2 linked regions of the Homo sapiens genome follow. The protein of the gene in region 1 interacts with the protein of each later gene in a biochemical or structural test. Each region holds a gene or a part of one and is shown in the gene's direction. Other genes may lie near its edges.

The links.
Region 2: the proteins of TRIM24 (region 1) and THRA form a complex in vitro, tested with the Homo sapiens proteins (one study listed by BioGRID).

Annotation. Positions count from the first base shown.
Region 1 is NC_000007.14:138,568,123-138,571,943, forward strand, and holds part of TRIM24 (transcription intermediary factor 1-alpha), read left to right. Parts: intron 1-2,707; coding exon 2,708-2,881; intron 2,882-3,821. UniProt on the Homo sapiens protein: Transcriptional coactivator that interacts with numerous nuclear receptors and coactivators and modulates the transcription of target genes.
Region 2 is NC_000017.11:40,083,398-40,087,218, forward strand, and holds part of THRA (thyroid hormone receptor alpha), read left to right. Parts: intron 1-437; coding exon 438-585; intron 586-1,212; coding exon 1,213-1,418; intron 1,419-3,309; coding exon 3,310-3,456; intron 3,457-3,821.

The DNA of each region.
Region 1 (3,821 bases):
TTTTTATTTTTTTTGAGACAGAGTCTCTCTCTGTTGCCTAGGCTGGAGTGCAGTGGCGCAATCTGGGCTAACTGCAAACTCTGCCTCCTGGGTTCACACCATTTCTCCTGCCTCAGCCTCCTGAGTAGCTGAGACTACAGGTACTCGCCACCACGCCCAGCTAATTTTTTTTGTATTTTTAGTAGAGACTGGGTTTCACCGTGTTAGCCAGGATGGTCTCAATCTCCTAAACTCGTAAGCCACCGTACCTGGCCTCCTTTTTTTTTTTTTTTTTTTTTTTTTTTTTTAAAGTCTCTCTCTGTCACTCAGGCTAGAGTACAGTGGCATGATCTCAGCTCACTGCAACCTCTGCCTTCCGGGTTCAAGCAATTTTCCTGCCTCAGCCTCCAGAGTAGCTGGGATTACAGGCGCCCACTACCATGCCTGGCTAATTTTTGTATTTTTAGTAGAGACAGGGTTTCACCATGTTGGCCAGGCTAGTCTCGAACTCCTGGCCTCAAGTGATATGCCCGCCTCAGCCTCCCAAAGTGCTGGGATTACAGGTGTGGGCCACCATACCCGGCTGTATTATTTATATACTTAGTGTCTTCAGGTAAAAATATTTTCTGTGTTTTACATTATCTTAAAGTTATCACAGTGTTTTTTCTTCTCAAAGCTCCTATGACAACAGCCTGTCTAGCTGATTGTAGACTGATTTTGGTTTCTCCAAGACCAAAATAAAGATGATGCAATTTTCATAATTCTATAACATCCATTTTAATAAAATCATTTTAATATTTTATTCTAAAAGTATGTACACTCTGTGTCTATACATATCTTCGTATAATCAATTTGCCTTTGCTATATCATCACCAAATTCTCTTAAACAATATTTTAATTATTTAAAATAAAATTCATACCTATTATTTCATCATTAGAAGGAAAGTAAAAAGGACCCAAGCTTCAGTTTGGCCTTAAATTCTACTTATTTTCCTAATAATTTTGTGGCACTTACGTAGTCTTTTCGCATCTCCCTTGCCTCAGCTATAAAATGCGTATCTTGCAGAGTTATGTTGAGAGTTTATTCTAATGTATATACAAGCACCTAGCACATGCTCAGTATTCAAATGTTTACCTCTTCCCTATTTATTGTATTTTAATGAGTAGATACTCTAAGCATGTTTTTTTAAAATGGTTGTTGACCAAAAATGTAAACATGAATGAATAAGTAAAGGAACAAGCCAGGAAAAAATCTACTGGGAAATTGCTTTTAAGTAGTAGATGAGTTTAACAAATTAGAGTATACTCATACAGTGGAATACTTTTCAGATATTAAGAAAATGCAGTAATCTAGATATGATTTTCTGAGTACGTGAGGAAAAGCATGTTATAGAATTTTTGTGAGGTGTTATCTCATTTGTATGTGTGTTTTCCTCCAGCCTCATCATGTACATAGAAAAAAACCTGAAACGATCCACCAACTGATTGTTCTTGGTAGAGGAGGAGGAAAGGGGGCATAGAGGTGGGGAATATGAGGGAGGAGTAGGTGGTAAAGAAGACATTCATGTCCAACTTCATATGTTTCTGTATGTAGTTTCTACAATGGAATATATAAATTAGGTTTTTCAAAATTGGAATGTTTCAGACATTTTATATAGTGCTGTTCATTTGTGAATGACCATGTTTGGAAAATACGGCATCTTGCAGTACACTTAGTTACTTTCCTTCTTCCAGCATGAAAATTTTCAAACATAATAAAAATTGAAAGAATTATATAGGGAACATTTTGTTCTACTTGCCTTATTACATGTTTATCTATTCCTTTGTCCATTCATCAAGTCATCCTTTTTTTTTTTTTTTTTGAGGCAGAATCTCTCTCTCTGTAGCCCAGGCTGGAGTGCACTGGTGCAATCTTGGCTCACTGCAACCTCTGCCTCCTGGGTTCCAGTGATTCTCCTGCCACAGCCTCCCAAGTAGCTGGGATTACAGGTGCCCACCACCACGCCCGGTTAATTTTTGTGTTTTAGTAGAGATGGAGTTTCACCATGTTGGCCAGGGTGGTCTTGAACTCTTGACCTCAAGTTATCCACCCACCTTGGGCTCCCAAAGTGCTGCGATTACAGGCATGAGCCACCATGCCCAGCCCATCATGTTTTTCAATAGGTTTTGAGTAAATTCCAGACAGCAGCATGCTTCACCTCTATATACTTCAGCATGCCTATCATCATCTTAATGTGTTTATCTCAGCAGGAATGATAGTACTTTCCTCAGATATTTATCGAGGCCTAATTATCTGTTCATATATGAGAAGAGGAATATAAAATCCTGAAAGTACCAGTCTGTAGCTTAGTATTTTCAAGTATTTCAGATAGGGATAGAAGAAATGTATGTTTTCAACCCTCCATCTTTACCTTGAAGTTGCTATGTATATATTTACATTTTTTTTCCAATATGTATAAACCTGCCAAGATTGGGTACTGTGATTTTCTGGTATATACTAACTGTTGTCTTCCAGTAAAAATCAGTGCTTTTTACTGTTTTGGTTTTTTTTTTTTTTTGACAAGATTAATGAAAATTATATATACTTGTGCAGTCTTTTGCTGTCCCATTCTCCTTCCATGTAAATTACAGTTGAACTCTTCTACTTCATTTTGTGTGAGTGATTACATAGATGTTGTATTTTATAAGCTTGTTGATAGCCTTTGTTCTTCTCTTCTTGTTACTGTAGTGGCAGATCAGCAGTGGACAGGGAACCCCATCAACTACCAACAGCACATCCTCTACTCCTTCCAGCCCCACGATTACTAGTGCAGCAGGATATGATGGAAAGGCTTTTGGTTCACCTATGATCGATTTGAGCTCACCAGTGGGAGGGTCTTATAATCTTCCCTCTCTTCCGGATGTAAGTAGACACAAAATTTATACTAGCCTCTGTTGAAAACTGTTGGCCGGGTGCAGTGGCTCACTCCTGTAATCCCAGCACTTTGGGAGGCTGAGGCAGACAGATTACTTGAGGTCAGGAGTTCGAGACTAGCCTGGCCAACATGGTGAAACCCCGTCTCTACCAAAAAATACAAAAATTAACCAGGCATGATAGCACACGCCTGTAATCCCAGCTACTTGGGAGGCGGAGGCTGTGGTGAGCTGAGATCATGCCACTGCACTCTAGCCTAACAGAGCGAGACCCTGTCTCAACAAAGAAAGAAAATTGTTAGTGAATTTGGATCTGGTAGAAGGCATGAATTTGTTGGATTATAGGTTGTTTGTTTTTACAAGTTAATTTTAATCCTTTAGAATATTACAACAGTAGTAAAAATAAAAAGATTATGAACATTGGACACATAATCTAATGTCTTTCAAGCCACCGGAGTTAAAGGTGTTTGTAAATGAGTGATTATGGTGATGGATCATGGAATCTAAGCTGGGAAAGGAGAAAAGTAAGGACATGGAAAGATATGCTGGGACGTTGAATGGCTGGACATCAGAAGAGATGAAGACAAGTTTAATAATAGAAATCCTGTTAGATCATACTGACAAGTGCAAAATTACCTCTGGTTTATACTACATGTAAATTAACTCACTCTCCAAACTCTTTGTCAGTATGACTTTTTGTTATTTATTATATTTTTAAATGATTTTTATTTTTAATAGAGATGGGGGAGACGCCCTATGTTACCCAGGCTGGTCTTGAACTCCTGGGCTGAAGGGATCCTCCTGCCTTGGCCTCCTAAAGTGCTGGGATTACAGGCATGAGCCACTACACCCAGCCAGTATGACTATTCCAAAGGCAGAAAGTCTGCATTCTGTAGACAGATCTCCATATATAAGTTGATTCTGTGTTT
Region 2 (3,821 bases), on another chromosome or scaffold:
AGACAGGGTTTCTTCATGTTGGTCAGGCTGGTCTCGAACTCCCGACCTCAGTTGATCTGCCCACCTCGGCCTCCCAAAGTGTTGGGATTACATGCGTGCGCCACCGCGCCCGGCGACTTGGATTTCCAAAGCTGCTATTCCTTAAGGCCTCACATTATCCCAGGTTCAAAGCTGCCTGCTCTAGACATCATTCCTGCCTCTGCCACAAACACTACCCAGACACCCCCAACCCCTCAGCAGCCTGGGGGCTGAGGGCATATATTTCTCAGGTCCTTGAGCCTAGTAATCTTGGGCTCATGGTGTCAGGAGGATGCCAGGTCCCCTCACTGATCTTGCCTTCCTTGCTCTCCACCCCTGACCCCTAGTAAACTGCATGGTTGGTTCAGGAAGGGGAAGCCATGTCATGATCACAGCCTGCTCCATCTCCCCCACCCCAGGGCTTCTTTCGCCGCACAATCCAGAAGAACCTCCATCCCACCTATTCCTGCAAATATGACAGCTGCTGTGTCATTGACAAGATCACCCGCAATCAGTGCCAGCTGTGCCGCTTCAAGAAGTGCATCGCCGTGGGCATGGCCATGGACTGTAAGGGGCCCAGGTGGAGGGAATAGAGCCAGGTGGCCTGGGGTGGGGATGAGTTCTGGGAGGGCAGCTTCCTTCCAGGGTACCCTCAGAGCCCACAGGGCAGAGTGGCAATCCAGTCTAGGTCAGAATGTTCAGTGTCTTGGTCCTTGCTGTCCTCCTTCCTGCGCAAAAGGAAACAGGATCCCTGTGTGGGCCCCAATGCCTACCTGCCTTACAACACTCGAGGGCCTTAGAGAGGGAGTCGTTTGGTAGAAAGAGCTCCTGGGCACCCACTCTAGCACACTGTTCTTGACTCCCAGCGAAGGCACCCCACTTCTAGATGAGACAGGGCATCTTCCATTGGCTGGGGATTGGGTGGCAGGATATTCGAGTAACCACCGTCACCATAATCCGTTAGACCAGAACATGATATTCATCTGGATCAGCCCAAACTGTTGTTGACATGGTCCCGGGGATTAATCATGATCCGGGTTGTGCTGCCCAACTGCTAGGTGATTTGGGAAGTCATTTAGCCTCCATGGCCCTCGGTTTCTCCAACCTGTACTCTAGGAAGAGTAGTTTCCGGGAGCATTATGGAAAGGGGATGGAGGGTGCCATGCGTTAGACCTTGTGCCTCTCTGTTCACAGTGGTTCTAGATGACTCGAAGCGGGTGGCCAAGCGTAAGCTGATTGAGCAGAACCGGGAGCGGCGGCGGAAGGAGGAGATGATCCGATCACTGCAGCAGCGACCAGAGCCCACTCCTGAAGAGTGGGATCTGATCCACATTGCCACAGAGGCCCATCGCAGCACCAATGCCCAGGGCAGCCATTGGAAACAGAGGCGGAAATTCCTGGTAAGGAGAAAGGGGGCATGGGGAGAGCAGTAGCCAGGTGGCAGGGAGAAGAGAGTGAGCTCGGAGTCTTGCCTCCTCCAGGAAGTCTTCTTAGTGTAATCCAACCCAAAATACATACTCTTCACACTTTTGCTGTCCAGATTTTATACACTTGTGTTTGTGTCCTTGCTGTCTGGACTGTCTACTCCATCCAACTGGGAGCTCAATGAGGACAGGGCCTTGCCTTCCTCATCGAATTTCCAGGGAGCGGGAGCGACCTTTCTTCTTTTTCCTGCCCTTAGTGACTGGGAGGAGAGGGTAAGGATACAGTTATGTCACAGTATTTTTGAGCACCTGCTGGGTGCCAGGCATTATGTTAGGCCCTGGTCAAGCTAGTTGCTAAGTAAATGATGAGTTTGGGACCAGGTGCAGTGGCTCATGCCTGTAATCCCAGCAATTTGTGAGACCAAGGTGGGAGGATCGCTTGAGCCCAGGAGTTTGAGACCAGTCTGGGTAACATACAGAGATCCCACCTCTATGAATAATTTTTTTTTTTTTTGATACGGAGTCTCACTCTCACCCAGGCTAGAGTGCAGTGGCACGATCTCGGCTCACCGCAACCTCCGCCTCCTGGGTTCAAGCGATTCTCCCGCCTCCGTCTCCCGAGTAGTTGGGATTACAGGCACTGGCCACCATGCCTGGCTAATTTTTGTGTTTTTAGTAGAGACAGGGTTTCACCATGTTGACCAGGCTGGTCTCGAACTCCTGACCTCAAGTGATCCACCCGCCTCGGCCTCCCAAAGTGCTGTGATTACAAGATGTGAGCCACCATGCCCACCCTCTATGAATAATTTTTTTTTTTTTTTGAGTTGGAGTTTCGCTCTTGTTGTCCAGGCTGGAGTGCAGTGGCACAGTCTTGGCTCACCGCAACCTCTACCTCCCGGCTTCAAGCGATTCTCCTGCCTCAGCTTCCCAAATAGCTGGGATTACAGGCGTGCGCCACCACGCCCGGCTAATTTTGTATTTTTAGTAGAGACGGTGTTTCTCCATGTTGGTCAGGCTTGTCTGAACTCGCAACCTCAGGTGATCTGCCTGCCTTGGCCTCCCAAAGTGCTGGGATTACAGGTGTGAGCTACTGCTCCCGGCCTCTCTACGAATAATTTTAAAATTAGCTGGGCATGGGGGTGTGTGCCTGTGGTCCCAGCTACTCGGGAGGCTGAGGCAGGAGGATCCCCTAAGCCTGGGAGGTCGAGGCTGCAGTAAGCCATGATTACACCGCTGCACTCCAGCCCAGGCAACAGAGCAAGACCCTCTCTCAAAAAATATGATCAGTTTGGGAGGAGATGGACAGTTGGCTATACGTGGTGAAGGAAGGCAGAAAACCAGCACCTGGTTCATGGTGGAGCATGCCGGGGGGTGGCACAGTGCACACTGTTAAGGGCACGGGCTCTGATTCCAAGCAGATGTGTAACAGTCACGAGTCAGACTGCCCAAGTTCAAACCCTGGTCCTACCACTTGCTGGTCATATGACTTTAACCTTATTATTTAGCTGCCCCATGCCTCAGTTTCCACATCTGTGAAATGGTGATTATTATAATTATTCCTTTTAGGATTATGGTCAGGATGAAATAAGACATGTAAAACATGTAGCCTGATGCCTGATCATATATTAAGTATTCAGTCATTATAGCTGCTACTACTGTTACTACCGTTGTTATTATTAGCTGACTTGGAGCTCTGGTTCTGGTCTATTCTCTGCTCAAGATGAAGGAAAAGCTTTGGGCCTGGGACTCAGGCACGGGCGGCCCCTCTTCCCCAAGCTGCCTTGGAGCTCCCCCTGGTGGGCAGGGAGCCTCAGTGAGAGGCTGAAAGGGGTCTGCGGCCCCAGCTGACCCCCGTCTTTCTCTCTAGCCCGATGACATTGGCCAGTCACCCATTGTCTCCATGCCGGACGGAGACAAGGTGGACCTGGAAGCCTTCAGCGAGTTTACCAAGATCATCACCCCGGCCATCACCCGTGTGGTGGACTTTGCCAAAAAACTGCCCATGTTCTCCGAGGTGAGTGGCAGAAGTGGGGAGAGATGTGATGCTGTGCTGGAGGGAAACCTGCTCCCCCGGTCACCCAGTACAGGCTCATCTGAGGTTCTCTGGACAAGGAGCAATTCCTGTAGGTCAACATACACAGATAACATACACAGACACACACACACACATGCATACACATACACCCAGCACACAGGCACACATGCAGACACATACACGGACACACACACACACCTAGCATACAGATACGTACACAGACACACATACACACACACATACACCCAGCACACAGACACACACACACCTAGTACACAAACACACACACAGATACATAGAAACACACACAGACATATACACCCAGCACACAGACACACACACAC